Homo sapiens: one gene and its partners. Changing the gene in region 3 together with the main gene of any one other region gives a genetic interaction. Each region holds a gene or a part of one and is shown on either strand. Other genes may lie near its edges.

What was found.
Region 1: changes in NRAS (region 3) and SLC7A1 together harm fitness more than expected from each alone (negative genetic interaction), as found in Homo sapiens cells (one study listed by BioGRID).
Region 2: changes in NRAS (region 3) and ATP1A1 together harm fitness more than expected from each alone (negative genetic interaction), as found in Homo sapiens cells (one study listed by BioGRID).
Region 4: changes in NRAS (region 3) and EXOC3 together harm fitness more than expected from each alone (negative genetic interaction), as found in Homo sapiens cells (one study listed by BioGRID).

What each region holds. Positions count from the first base shown.
Region 1 is NC_000013.11:29,529,445-29,533,188, reverse strand, and holds part of SLC7A1 (high affinity cationic amino acid transporter 1), read left to right. Parts: intron 1-206; coding exon 207-365; intron 366-2,476; coding exon 2,477-2,651; intron 2,652-3,744. UniProt on the Homo sapiens protein: High-affinity, low capacity permease involved in the transport of the cationic amino acids (arginine, lysine and ornithine) in non-hepatic tissues.
Region 2 is NC_000001.11:116,397,244-116,400,987, reverse strand, and holds part of ATP1A1 (sodium/potassium-transporting ATPase subunit alpha-1), read right to left. Parts: intron 3,101-3,744; coding exon 2,950-3,100; intron 2,368-2,949; coding exon 2,199-2,367; intron 2,059-2,198; coding exon 1,904-2,058; exon of another isoform or gene 1,674-1,903; intron 1,569-1,673; coding exon 1,445-1,568; intron 128-1,444; coding exon 1-127. UniProt on the Homo sapiens protein: This is the catalytic component of the active enzyme, which catalyzes the hydrolysis of ATP coupled with the exchange of sodium and potassium ions across the plasma membrane.
Region 3 is NC_000001.11:114,706,518-114,710,496, reverse strand, and holds part of NRAS (GTPase NRas), read left to right. Parts: intron 1-768; coding exon 769-928; intron 929-1,842; coding exon 1,843-1,962; 3' UTR 1,963-1,966; intron 1,967-2,304; 3' UTR 2,305-2,343; intron 2,344-2,446; 3' UTR 2,447-3,979. UniProt on the Homo sapiens protein: Ras proteins bind GDP/GTP and possess intrinsic GTPase activity.
Region 4 is NC_000005.10:446,176-449,919, forward strand, and holds part of EXOC3 (exocyst complex component 3), read left to right. Parts: 5' UTR 1-30; coding exon 31-174; intron 175-645; exon of another isoform or gene 646-1,033; intron 1,034-1,163; exon of another isoform or gene 1,164-1,217; intron 1,218-1,357; coding exon 1,358-1,577; intron 1,578-3,744. UniProt on the Homo sapiens protein: Component of the exocyst complex involved in the docking of exocytic vesicles with fusion sites on the plasma membrane.

The sequences.
Region 1 (3,744 bases), on a different chromosome or scaffold from region 3:
CTCTGTAGGCCCTAGAAGCCTTCTCGCACTTAGCACTAGTCGACCGTCACTTCTGGCTCAGCATACACTGTGGTCTGGCTGCTGCTGCCAGATTCCAGTGCACCGTCGGTGACTCCTGCAATGATGTTATCAACATGGAGCTCCACTACAAATACCTGGCTAACAGTTGTCCTCACATCTCCTCTGTTGTGTGTGCTTTGTGGCAGGTACTTCAAGCGTAGCGAGGGCCTGGAGCGCCACCTTCGACGAGCTGATAGGCAGACCCATCGGGGAGTTCTCACGGACACACATGACTCTGAACGCCCCCGGCGTGCTGGCTGAAAACCCCGACATATTCGCAGTGATCATAATTCTCATCTTGACAGGTAAAGCCCACACTTAAAAAGAGATCGGGTCAGAGTGATGGGCAAAGGTTTGGTGAGAGGCTCCTGTTAAGTTCCTTTCTTTACTTATCTCTTTAACCATAACCCCCATTTCTTTTTGTTTTGTTTTTGTACTGCATGCAGGCATCTTTATTTGTTCCTGTCTTCATTGCTTCTTATAGATTCAGATAGGGCCGGCCTGCTTCATAGCTGTTGAATTGTGTGCCATTTCATTAAAAGAGAATCTTAGGTGTTTAGCCTAGCTGTTTGTGGAATAAGATTTTGTCTGCACTGCAGGCTTTTTGTGTGAGTGTCCTGGGAATAAAAGTTCTTTTGACTCAGTGGATGACCATTTGGAAAGCAAAACTGTCATTCATCAGCCAGGAAAATGTGGAGGAATGAGCTCCGTCTGGAACACTAATGTGTGCCTGGGGCGTCTGAAGATGACTTGGATGGTTTTTACACCTAACAACCATCAAAACACCCTTTCAGTAAATAAGTTTCATGACAGAGTTGTGGTTACAGAATTTGAAAAATCCCAGAGACTGCCTGAACACAGCTGATGGCAACTTCTTGCTAGTGACATTTGTGCGTGTCTTGGCCAGTGCAGCGCGAGTTTTGCTCTGTGGGGCTCCATAAACATGAAGCTGAAATGCAGATAAATTCTCATTTGGGGTTAGAAAATCTTGGATGAGTTTTAAAAATGACATGCCTTATTTTACACACCACATAATTGAAATAACTTCACTCAGGCTGGTCTCAGCAGTATTTCTGGTCCAGCTGGCAGAAACATGCATCAGAAAGTAAGTCTGCACTAGTGAGATTTCATTTTAATAAACCTGAGAGGGAGGGACACTAAAGAAACAATATATTGTTGTTTGTTGAGGTGTTCTCCCTGTGATTAATTACACAATTCTCTTCTAACATCTGTACTTTATAATTCAATCTCAAAAGTACAGCAGTTTTTATTTTATTTTATTTTATTTTATATTTGAGACAGAGTCTTGTTCTGTCACCCAGGCTGGAGTGCAGTTGCGCGATCTTGGCTCACTGCAACCTCTGCCTCCTGGGTTCAAGCGATTCTCACACCTCAGCCTCCCCAGTAGCTGCGATTACAGACACGCACCACCACACCCAGTTAATCTTTTATATTTTTAGTAGAGGTAAGGTTTTGCCATATTGGCCAGGCTGGTCTGGAACTCCTGACCTCAAAAGATCTGCCTGCTTCCCAAAGTATTGGGATTACAGGCGTGAGCGACCGCACCTAGCCAATTTTTATTTTAAAACGATGAGAGGCGTCCATGGCAGAGCAGTGGTCTCAAATCCTGGCTGTGTTCGAGTGGTACCAACCCCTTCTGTGCCACTTTTCTTGCCCAGCAGAGAGTTCAGCTATGGAAGTACCCGAATGACCTCTTCACCCTAAGGTGGTGCTGGGGCATGTGCCTCAAAGGCAGTGCTGTCAGAGGTTCCTGGGCATCTTTATTACTTATAGTTTTCTTTAAAAAAAAAACGTGAGTTTGCAAGCTAGAGCTAGCCTAGCTCAGATGTTATTTTATATGCACTGAGTCCAACGAAGAACCATGTGTGTTAGTGGTTCCAGAACCATAGCTAGTTGTTATTGTTAATATCACTAACATCCCAAAGTCAACCAGAATAATTTCCTCTTCTGAAAAATGTCCATTCTCCCAGGAAACTATGCAAAGTCTTTCTTCCTGGAATTGTTCCTAGAGGTTGTTTCCCAGCAACGCATCCTTTTAGTGAGAGGGAGCGGCTTGGTGTGCGGGTCCAGGCTTTCCCCTCCCTATGAGAGGGGCTCATGCTCCAGATCTCTGCAGTTCTCGGGTGCCCCTTGGGTGGGCTTCTCAGTTCCCAAGGGTATCTGGAGGTCACCTAGGAGGGCCTGGGAAGCACCCACAACCTTGGTGATTTAAACCCCTGATCCCCGCCCCCAGAAAGATAATTAATCCACCCCATTCCCAGAGGCTCACAGAGGTCTGCAGAGGCTCGATGCACTTGGATTCTTTTTCAGTCGCCTTCTTATCCCCATCCAGGAAGGACCTTCCCAGTTTGTGGTTAACACTCAGACAAAGTTTTGTGTCTATGCACTTTTTCAGGACTTTTAACTCTTGGTGTGAAAGAGTCGGCCATGGTCAACAAAATATTCACTTGTATTAACGTCCTGGTCCTGGGCTTCATAATGGTGTCAGGATTTGTGAAAGGATCGGTTAAAAACTGGCAGCTCACGGAGGAGGATTTTGGGAACACATCAGGCCGTCTCTGTTTGAACAAGTGAGTTGCTGCTTCTGACCATTTTTCTTAGTTGACATTTAATGACATAGATTGTATGGGGGATATAACTGGCTAGGATGGCATGTGCTTTTAAGAAAACATTATTTGAGGATATTTTGTTAATTGTTTTGTGTTTTTGCAGTGAAGTAGCTGAGGGTATTTTGTATGTATCAAGTTTGTGTGAAGGTTTATTCCCCTGAAATGGAAAGACTATTGTATGACAAGAAAGACTGAGGAAAAGAAAATCATCACCCTAATTCCAAATTGTGTATCATTCAGGATTCTTGTCAGACTCATTAAATGATCCCTCTTTCCCCAGATTCTGTTTGATGGCCAACTTTGGAATTTTGTGTTCAGAAAAGATTTTTCTCTGCAGTGCCGTGGTGACCTCACTTCACCTTTAAATACCTTCCTATTAGATTAATAATGTAGAGGGAAGAGAAATAGGTGAAACTATTTTTGAAGGTTTTCAGAATGACTGAAGTGTCAGAATGTGAGCACAATAGTCTTTCGCCGACATTTGACTTGTGCTGCTCAAGCCCTGGCGACAGTGGCCCCATCACCCTCATGTCTCTGACACAGACATCCGGAACTGGAGGTGACAGCTCCACCCTGTGCCATCTCAGGTCTCTCGCCCAGCCCTCATTGAAAGCTCAGATAACCTAGGAAAAAAAAGCCAAACAGTCATATCTTTTTTATCTTTGTTGTCAGATCTCCATGTAATTCTTTAGGTCTCAGGATGGACAATGGGGACTTGGATTTTGTGTGTGATTCTTCATTAAGACTGAAGGTTGAAACTGCTATGATAAAGAGACCCCCTCCAACTGCCACAATGGAGTGTGGCTTTAAAGAAGAGATGTTTCCAGTCCTGAAGTGAGCAGTCCGCGTTGGCTGGCCAGCTTTGCCACAGGCCTCTGTGGACCTAGACATCTTCTGTCTTGCTCCATCTTCCCCCAGGACATTGTCCTCATCTGCCTGGTCAGAGCTGGCTGTAGGCACGAGCATGACCCAGCTCTTCCAGAAGGGAAAAGAGAGCGTAGAGGAGAGTGCTCAGGTCTGTTCAGGACAGACCAGAAGACACACAGACATTCCA
Region 2 (3,744 bases), 1.7 Mb from region 3:
TCTTCCACATCGTTGATCCAGCGGTCATCCCAGTCCACTCGGAGGCCCAACAGGTGAATTGGGAGGAAGCCGTTCTCAGCCAGAATCACAAAGTAAGTAAAGAAGCCTCCCAGGGCCTGGATCATTCCTAAGTTGGGAAAACAACCCAATTACTAGAACCTCACACACAAGGGTACCTGTATAGCCTTCAGCTGATTACTGCAGCAGGCCTGGGAGAGCACATATGGAGGAGTGTTTCCCCCTGGTTGATAAAAGCACAGGAAAGAATTGCCTGGTCACTCACAGGCTATGAGGGATGGGATGGAGGACCCCAGGCATACACTCCAATCTCAGGGCCCTCTGCTTTTTGAGTCACTTTTTGGAGCCTACACAAAGACACATGTGCCTTGCTCTCAAAATGCCCACCTGTTACTTGACCAGCTGCTTCTAAGGGTATGACCTTTAGGGGAAATCCACTTCCCTACTTTTTAATCTCTGACAAATGATAACTTCTTTTCCATCTTTCAAAATTCCTACATGCTGCCATTTTTCTAGCCACTGTGGCACTTTCTGACTCTCCTCCCCACCTTCAGGACCCTCCTCCCCCTGGCATCCAATTTAACCACGCTGCTCCAAGTTCCTCAGGGCAGGGTTTCATCCTAAACCACCAGAGACCTAGTCTTCCTTCCTCTCAAAAGCAGGCCTCCTTGGAGAAGGTCAGGATGGGCCACCAGCCAATTACTTTGTTGCCAACAACTGTCTAATGAATCTTTGCCATAATTTCCACAATATTCTATCTAATCTGTTCTTCTTTATCCAAGCGTTCACAGTTATGTGACCCATTAATCCAGGAGAATAAGACATCCATGGTGGCTTTGCCAGGTTCTCTTGAAGGAACCCTAGGCAGAGGATTTAAAAACAAATGGCATGCTGATTGCCCACCACCTGGATCACCTGTTAGCTAGTCATGCTGCACTGTGGGGGCAGAAGTCCAGTGTGAGGTGGATGGAGGATCACCCTTTGGTGGTGACCTACCAGCCAAACTCTCAAACACATATACTTTCTCCAATGCCTAACTCCATCCAAGTGAGTGACAGATAAGTGTGTATCTCCAGGGAAAGCAGCCTGTGCGTCAGTACACACAATTCCTTAGAACCATGCCTCCTGTTCCGCAAGGCTCAGTGAGGAAGGACATCCTCATTTCTCAGGCAGAGTTGAGCCCAGTTCCAAGGTGCTCAGTATAGAAAACCAGTTTCCACAAAAGGTAACTGGGCAAACAGCAACAGATGTATTCTCACATGGAAGAGAGTTCAGAGAAACTCCACAGGCTCACTCCGTTAGGGCTCATCCTAGACCTGAAAGTCGCCTGGATTTGCAGTCTCTGAAATCAACCTCAACCTGAGGTGGACACCATCACCTCAGATGCCTTAGATGTGCCAGCTTCCCACTCCAGGCTGCAGCTTACCAATCTGCCCATAGGCCATGCTGATCAGCCGCTCATTCACAAGTTTGTCTGTTTTGGGATTTCTGGGCTGTCTCTTCATGATGTCACTCTCAGCCTGCTCATAAGCCAGGGAGATGGCAGGAACCTGGGAAGGGGTGGGGAGAAGGAATTTAGTTACTAAAAATAAGGAAGCTAATATTGTGAACCTTTTGTTATAAAATTCTTGCCCTCCCATTTAAAAATCTTTTAGGTGAAGTATACAAAAATAAAGATTCCCATCTGATAAACAAATGTTAACTGCTGCCTTGAAGAGTGGTAATACTGATTCTGTGAAGCCGGGATTGGGACACACACTGGATACTGGTCCTGAGAATTTCTTTTCCCAACGCCAGCCTCATGGATGCTGGGAGCATAGTGCCAGTGAATGAAGACACAGCTCACACCTCACTACTATCGATCTGTGACTGTTGTGACACTCACCATGTCAGTGCCCAAGTCAATGCAGAGGATGGTGACAGTCCCCAGTGGTAGTGGAATGTTTGCAATAATAAATATCAGGAACGGGGTGATCTCGGGAATGTTACTGGTTAAGGTATAAGCAATGGATTTCTTCAAGTTATCAAAGATCAGACGACCTATGAAAACCAAGATTTTTTACTGTTAGCTTATGAGACAAGCACACTGGAAACTGAACATATCCAAGAAGTATACAGAAATGGATGCTAATGGGCAGTATCTGAATAAGATCTTGGTGTACACCTTAAATAGCTCTCACCTTCCTCTACTCCAGTCACAATTGAGGCAAAGTTGTCATCCAGAAGAATCATGTCAGCAGCTTGCTTGGACACATCTGAGCCAGCAATCCCCATAGCAACCCCAATGTCTGCTTTCTTCAAAGCTGGAGAGTCATTCACACCGTCACCAGTCACAGCCACGATAGCACCCTACCCCAGAAAAGGGAAAACGGGTTAATACCAATCACTTTTCCTAGCGATGGAAATAGTGCGATGCATGCCCCCACTGAGCACTCATTACAGACACTGCTCCTTTCCTATTGAGACTATTTATGAAGCCTGAGAACCGTCACAGGCAAGTATTCACACAGGCCCTACACCAAATAACAGAACTGAGAAGTGACAACAAACATAGCCCCCAGCATTAACAAGAGCTACTCAAAGTAATGACTCTGGTGGGTGGCACTCCAGAAAATGCCATTCCTGTATGCACGCCCTGTAGTCTGACCACTCACATCTCTATTGCAAATACTAGGACCCCATATCAGATGACTCCACGGAGCGGTCAGGCTCTGGGACACAGTGGACACCTGGACTTTAAAGTGCTTCTGTCACTGCTAAACCATTAACAAGTCACCCTCTCTATGCCTATGAGCTTCCTACTGGCCTATTTATACTGAGTCTAATACAGCGAGGTATGCATCCATCCATCACCGTTGCTCTGTTTCCACTGGAACTCCAATCCCTAAAGCCAATAGTGCCCAAAGCAGCCTGATCCTTGTGCTGGCTGACCTGTCTTTGGCAGCCTTCCACAATGATGAGCTTCTGCTGAGGGGAGGTCCTGGCAAACACTATCTCAGTGTGGTACTTCAAAATGTCATCCAGCTGCTCGGAGGTCATGTCCTTTAGATCACTGCCGTGTACTACGCAGGCCTTGGCATCCCTAGAATTAGGACAAAAAAAAAAAAAAAGTCACGCATCACATCACCAGCATGTGTCCATCACCTCAAGAGGGGATATTCTTATGCAGATCACTTTGTAAACAAAACAAAGAAGGAATTTTCCCCAGCACATAAAAGCTATTAAGTGTTCAGTACTTTACAGGTTACAGAGCATTTTCATATATTTTATCTCATTTGAGGCTCATGATGATCTCTAAGGCAGGCCTGTCTGTATTCTTCCTTTCCCTATCTTTATTAGACATGCTGAAATATAACCAAGTTTTAGCTGGGTGTGTGGCTCATGCCTGTAATCCCAGCACTTTGGGAGGCTGAGGTGAGTGGATCACTTGAGGTCAGGAGTTCGAGACCAGCTTGCCAAAATGGTGGTCTAAAAATTCAAAAATTAGCCGGGCATGGTGGTTGGGGCCTGTAATCCCAGCTACTTGGGAGGCTGAGGCAGGAGAATCACTTGAACTCAGGAGGTGGAGGTTGCAGTGAGCCAAGATCATGACACTGCACTCCAACCGGGATGACAGAGCGAGACTCCATCAAAGAAAAAAAGAAATATAACCAAGTTTTAGAAAGTGGCAGAGCTGATACAAGACCAAACCCTCCTCTAACCGTAACATAGGGTGAAAGGGCCCTA
Region 3 (3,979 bases):
TGCCCAGGCTGGAGTGCAGTGGAACAATTATGGCTCACTGCAGCCTTGACCTTTCTGGACCCAGGTGATCCTCCCACCTCAGTCTCCCAATTAGCTGGGACTACAGGCATGCGCCACCACACCCAGCTATAATATATATTGTATATATATTTTTTATTTATAAATATATATAAATATATATTTATATGTGTAAATTATATATATTTATATATTATAAATTATATATAAATATATATTTATATATAATATATATAATATATATTTATTTTTATATATTTTATATATATTTTTTGGGGGGGGTTGGGGGGGATGGAGTCTCACTCTGTCGCCCAGGCTAGAGTGTAGTGGCGTGATCTTGGCTCACTGCAATCTTCGCCTCCCAGGTTCAAGCGATTCTCCTGCCTCAGCTTCCCGAGTAGCTGGGACTATAGGCGCCTGCCACCACACCTGGCTAATTTTTGTATTTTTAGTAGAGATGGGGTTTCACCATATTGGCCAGGCTGGTCTTCAACTCCTGACCTTGTGATCTGCCCACCTCAACCTCCCAAAGTGCTGGGAATACAGGCATGAGCCACTGCACCCAGCCTAATCTTTGTATTTTTTTGTAGAGACCGGGTTTTGCCATGTTGCCCAGGCTAATCTCAAACTCCTGGGTTCAAGCAGTCTGCCCTCCTCAGCCTCCCAAAGTGCTGAGATTGCAGGCATGAGCCACTGTACCCAGCCTAATCTTGTTTTTCTTATGTTCTGATAATATATTCCCGTTTTTAGGGAGCAGATTAAGCGAGTAAAAGACTCGGATGATGTACCTATGGTGCTAGTGGGAAACAAGTGTGATTTGCCAACAAGGACAGTTGATACAAAACAAGCCCACGAACTGGCCAAGAGTTACGGGATTCCATTCATTGAAACCTCAGCCAAGACCAGACAGGTATGGTACAGCTTTCAGCATTTGTGCAAGAGTTTGCATCAGTTGATTAACTCTGGTAGAGATGTGATCCATATTCATATTCTTTGTTGTTATGCATTTTTTTCATTTTTATTTTTTTATTTTTTATTTTTTTTTAGGCAGAGTCTCACTCTATCTTCTAAGCTGGAGTGCAGTGGTGTGATCTCAGCTCACTGCAGCCTCTGTCTCTTGGGTTCAAGTGATTCTCCTGCCTCAGCCTCCCAAGTAGCTGGGACTACGGGCACATCATCATGCCCGGCTAATTTTTGTACTTTTAGTAGAGACAGGGTTTTACCATGTTGCCCAGGCTGGTCTCGAACTCCTGGCCTCAAGCAATCCTCCCACCTGGGCCTCCCAGAGTGCTGGGATTACAGGTGTGAGCCACCACGCCCAGCCTGTTGTTAGGCATTTTTAGTAGTGTTCTTTTTCTTAACGCTTGTTTAAACCCAAAATGAACTTACTAATATTCTGTTATGGCATGTTTACTCCTGCATTAACATCCACAAATATTTCTTGGGAAGATCCTTGACTAAAAATATTTATAAACATTAGTTATTTCTCTGTCAACACCAGCCCGTTTATGGCTTAAGCCTCCTGAATGGAGTCTTTAGTTTAATGTAGTTTTGTTCCGTGTTTCTCACATTACCCTTTTCCTTTGCATGAATGTTTATTTGGCAAAATGTGCCATTTTTATATCAGCCTGTTCTTGTGATTCAATAGGAATGTGAAATTTAGTGTTCTCTTCCTTAAATCACCATATTTTATTTTATCAGCTATTCGTTTAGTAATTGGAATCTTATGTCCACATAAAGAGATACAAATGCAAGAGAGCTTATAATTTGGATTGTGTCCGTTGAGCTAGCTCTCTCATTTTTTTTCATTTTTTCCTTTTATAGGGTGTTGAAGATGCTTTTTACACACTGGTAAGAGAAATACGCCAGTACCGAATGAAAAAACTCAACAGCAGTGATGATGGGACTCAGGGTTGTATGGGATTGCCATGTGTGGTGATGTAACAAGGTGAGCATATGGTTTCTTGGCATAATTACAAATCTTAGTATATAGTATTGGGCAATTTGGAGGAGTGCTGGTGTTATTGTCTATATGTTTTTTGAGTTTCTGCCTATCCTCTTCTGCACATTTTCCATATGACACCCTTTCTGAAAGTACTGAGGTCTAAAGTGTTTAAAACATTTGATTATTCCACAGGTATCTTTATATTTTTGGTAACATTAGAAATTATAAGACATTATTTATGAAATGTAGGCATACCCTATTCCTGGCAATGACCAGGAATTTGAAGGATCACTACTTTGAAACTAGTTAATAAGGACATGGTTTCTGTTCTTTTTTTACAGATACTTTTAAAGTTTTGTCAGAAAAGAGCCACTTTCAAGGTAGGACAAGTTTGGAAATGTATTCTCATTCCTGTTAATTTTGTATATTTGTTTTTCTTATACTCTGAATGTGTCACTTATACAAATTCTGTTTCTATTTCAGCTGCACTGACACCCTGGTCCTGACTTCCCTGGAGGAGAAGTATTCCTGTTGCTGTCTTCAGTCTCACAGAGAAGCTCCTGCTACTTCCCCAGCTCTCAGTAGTTTAGTACAATAATCTCTATTTGAGAAGTTCTCAGAATAACTACCTCCTCACTTGGCTGTCTGACCAGAGAATGCACCTCTTGTTACTCCCTGTTATTTTTCTGCCCTGGGTTCTTCCACAGCACAAACACACCTCTGCCACCCCAGGTTTTTCATCTGAAAAGCAGTTCATGTCTGAAACAGAGAACCAAACCGCAAACGTGAAATTCTATTGAAAACAGTGTCTTGAGCTCTAAAGTAGCAACTGCTGGTGATTTTTTTTTTCTTTTTACTGTTGAACTTAGAACTATGCTAATTTTTGGAGAAATGTCATAAATTACTGTTTTGCCAAGAATATAGTTATTATTGCTGTTTGGTTTGTTTATAATGTTATCGGCTCTATTCTCTAAACTGGCATCTGCTCTAGATTCATAAATACAAAAATGAATACTGAATTTTGAGTCTATCCTAGTCTTCACAACTTTGACGTAATTAAATCCAACTTTCACAGTGAAGTGCCTTTTTCCTAGAAGTGGTTTGTAGACTTCCTTTATAATATTTCAGTGGAATAGATGTCTCAAAAATCCTTATGCATGAAATGAATGTCTGAGATACGTCTGTGACTTATCTACCATTGAAGGAAAGCTATATCTATTTGAGAGCAGATGCCATTTTGTACATGTATGAAATTGGTTTTCCAGAGGCCTGTTTTGGGGCTTTCCCAGGAGAAAGATGAAACTGAAAGCACATGAATAATTTCACTTAATAATTTTTACCTAATCTCCACTTTTTTCATAGGTTACTACCTATACAATGTATGTAATTTGTTTCCCCTAGCTTACTGATAAACCTAATATTCAATGAACTTCCATTTGTATTCAAATTTGTGTCATACCAGAAAGCTCTACATTTGCAGATGTTCAAATATTGTAAAACTTTGGTGCATTGTTATTTAATAGCTGTGATCAGTGATTTTCAAACCTCAAATATAGTATATTAACAAATTACATTTTCACTGTATATCATGGTATCTTAATGATGTATATAATTGCCTTCAATCCCCTTCTCACCCCACCCTCTACAGCTTCCCCCACAGCAATAGGGGCTTGATTATTTCAGTTGAGTAAAGCATGGTGCTAATGGACCAGGGTCACAGTTTCAAAACTTGAACAATCCAGTTAGCATCACAGAGAAAGAAATTCTTCTGCATTTGCTCATTGCACCAGTAACTCCAGCTAGTAATTTTGCTAGGTAGCTGCAGTTAGCCCTGCAAGGAAAGAAGAGGTCAGTTAGCACAAACCCTTTACCATGACTGGAAAACTCAGTATCACGTATTTAAACATTTTTTTTTCTTTTAGCCATGTAGAAACTCTAAATTAAGCCAATATTCTCATTTGAGAATGAGGATGTCTCAGCTGAGAAACGTTTTAAATTCTCTTTATTCATAATGTT
Region 4 (3,744 bases), on a different chromosome or scaffold from region 3:
CAGTGTGAGGATTCCACCAGCTTTTTCACCATGAAGGAGACAGACCGGGAGGCCGTTGCGACAGCAGTGCAAAGGGTTGCTGGGATGCTCCAGCGCCCGGACCAGCTGGACAAGGTGGAGCAGTATCGCAGGAGAGAAGCGCGGAAGAAGGCCTCCGTGGAGGCCAGATTGAAGGTGAGGCCACCTGCCCCACTCCCAGGATCTGTCTTGGGCTTCAGGTTCTTGCTTGACATCACCATGATGATTTTGCTAAACTAGCCTTTATGGTAATGTGCAAGGAGGCAGAGCTGGACTTTCTTGAGCAGTTACTTTCAGCAGTGTATTACCACTCAGTAGCTTTGCTTAGAAGACAGTGGGAATGGTGAAAACACCAAAGGAACAAGCTTTTAAACACCCTGAGGCCGGGTGCGGTGACTCATGCCTGTAATCCCAGCACCTCGGGGAGGCCGAGGCAGGCGGATCACCTGAGGTCAGGAGTTCAAGACCAGCCTGGTCAACATGGTGAAACCCTGTCTCTATGAAAATACAAAAATTAGCCAGGCATGATGGTTGACGCCTGTAATCCCAGCTACTTGGGAGGCTGAGGCAAGAGAATCGCTTGAACCCAGGAGGCAGAGGTTGCGGTGAGCCGAGATGGTGCCATTGCATTCCAGCCTGGGCAACAGAGTGAGACTCTGTCTCAAAAAGAAAAAAAAAACACAGAAACAAAAACAACACCCTGAAAGTGTCTATTAAGTTTTTAAACAATACTGGAGGAAGGAGAAGTAGTCTTATTTAAAGCTCTTCTACAGAGCACCACTAGAGGGCATTTTGTTCAGATTGTTTTAACTCACATTTGACAGAGAGCGGATCTGAAGCTCAGGTGCCGATTCTGTCCTGTGGGTCAGCCGTCCTGGGGCCAAGTGTGGTGCTGGCTGAACAGCAGGAACTCCCCCACCCCAAGCCAGTGAAGTCCTGACCGTTCTCTCTGCCTAGACAAGACCTTTTAGGAACCTAGGATGCCTGGGAGAGCATGGGTGACATCCTTCTGAAGGTACCGTAGCAGGCCACGGCCCAGGGCAGACCCGTGGTAGTGTCCAGGATCACCAGGTGTGAGGCTAGATGAGGAGTGTCCTGACCTTTTCTCATCAAGGCTTTAAAATGCATCATTGTTCTGTTCCCAGGCAGCAATGAAGAAAAAGGTACACTGTGAATCAATTAAATCCTTGTTGATTTTATTTTCTTTTCTGGGTATTGACTGTTTCCTGCTACTCAGTGGCTCTTTCCTGAACTTGACCCTCCTGGGGAAGATTTGTTCTTCAGGAGGCAGCGCATGGCTATCATTGGCTCTGCTCACCCGTGTGGCGTCTCTCTTTAGGCCGCCATCCAGTCACAGTTGGACGGGGTGCGCACAGGCCTCAGCCAGCTCCACAACGCCCTGAATGACGTCAAAGACATCCAGCAGTCGCTGGCAGACGTCAGCAAGGACTGGAGGCAGAGCATCAACACCATTGAGAGCCTCAAGGACGTCAAAGACGCCGTGGTGCAGCACAGCCAGCTCGCCGCAGCCGTGGAGAACCTCAAGAACATCTTCTCAGGTACCAGCCAGACGCCGAGGCACTTGCCCCCACTCACGCTGTCTTTGCATGACTCACTGAGTGCTCTGTGTGCAGTGTGCTTTGCAGCCCGCACTGTAGACCTGTAGACGGTAAGTGTGATTCTTGTCTGCTCAGCGTCTTTTTTTGAACGTGGATGGAAGTGATCAGCTGAGCATGTAAAGGCTAGGAGAAGGCTTGTAGTTCAGTGTCAGGACAGAGGCCCAGAAGCGGGCTGCCCAGCAAATGCAGTGTGGAGGGATTCCCTGGCTGAGTGTCGTTCCCTTGCTTGCGATGTGGCTGTTAGACTCTGTGAGTGCAGAAGAATGAAGACGCCGTGGCCCATGCTTAAAAGGAGCTGCAGGAGAAGCCACCCTGTGCATGGGACAGAGCAAGCAGATCCCAGAGCAGAAGGGTTGAGGCGAGCAGCAGCTCCCAGGCAGGAGGAGAAGCGTGTGTGCACAGGCCAGGGCAGAGGCGGGGCTGAGCGCCGTGGGGGAGTGACCCTTTCAGTCTTCTCCCTGAATGCCTCAGTTAGAAGGATGCCAAGGGCCCTGTAACCTGTCCCTGAACGGTGCCAGCTGGCCCTGGGTGGTGGCTCCCAGCATTTGTGTTCACAGTCTCCTCCTGCTTGCTGTGACAGGAGCTGCTTCCACAGCCTCATCCCTCCCCTTGGTCCCCGCTCTGTGTCAAGGTCAGCAGCATCCTTCCAGTCCCCAACTCAGAAGCCTTGGCAGGGTCTGATTCCTTCCCTTTCTTTGTTCCTGTCTCTGGCCTCTTGGCAAGTTCTTCCTGTTCCTCTACCAGACGTCTCTGCCCTGATGTCTGTATGACACTTCCCCATCCCCAGCCGTCACGTGCCCCAGCTCACCCTTCACAGTGGCTGTGCTGCATCATCTGTGACGCTGCTCGGCTCCTGAGGCCACGTGTGAATTGGCGCGGTTCTCCCCAGCTGCCCACAGCGCACCTTGGTAATCCGTGTCCCGTCCACCCTGTCCTCTCTGCCCTCCTCTCGTGCTTGCGGCTGCAGCATTGCCGAGCACCTTGTCCCGTTGCTTTGTGTGTGCCCTTCTTCCAGGGCATGATCCGTAGGGTCACATGTGTGGCTGCAGTCCGTGTCTCTTTGTGCATGCCCAACACGAACGCCACTGTGCTGCCAACTCAGAAAGCAGCTCTTCTTGGTGACTGTGGGCCGCCTGGAACAGGAATAAAGTCCTCTCGACGGAGTCTCCTTGGTGATGCTCAGCTGGCAGCTTTCTAGTTAATTTCCTCTTATTTCGTATTGGCTGGCTACATTTCCTTCCGGTCTTTTAAACTAATGCCTGATGACCAAAAAGGTGCATTACTGGAATTAGTTTATCCACAGCAGTTGAAAATAATTTCCTTTCCTTGGTGAACAAATGAGCCTGCGTGGTATGCATGTTTTTTGTTACGGATAAATTTTCATTGAGAAGATTGGTTTGGTTGCCTTCAGACTTGTCTCATTGCCTATAACTCAGCAATGCTGTGTACACAGCTCCCCTCCCCCATTTTTTCTTCTTCTAAAATGCATATGTACAGTTTGCCGTCTTAACCATTTTTAAGTGTACAGTTGGGGACTATTAAGAACATTCATATTGTTGTGCAACCATTGCCACATCCGTCTTCAGAACTCTTTTCATCTTGCAGACATGAAAATCTGTACCCATTAAACACTGACTTCGCACCCTCTGCCCCAGCTCCTGGTCACCACCATTCTGCCTTCTGTCTCTGTGAATTGGATGACTCTGAAGACCTCATAGAAGTGGCATCACACATTATCTGTCTTTCTGTGACATGCTTATTTCACTCAGCATGATGTCCTCAGGGGTCTTCTATGCTGTGGTATTGTAGAATTTCCTTCACTTTTAAGGCTGAATAATATTCCATTGTATGGATGGACCACATTTTGCTTATCCGTTTGTCTGTTGGTGGACATTTGAATTGCTTCCACGTTTTAGCTATTGTGAATAATGCTGTAGTGAACATGGGTGTACAGATGTTTTACTTTTATTTCTTTCTGGTATATACACACAAGTGTAATTGCTGGACCATGTGGTAATTTATGTTTAAATCTTTGAGCAGCTGCCAGACTGTTTCCTCCGGTGGCTGCAGCATTTTCCACCATGAGTGTGTGAGGTTTCTGATTCGT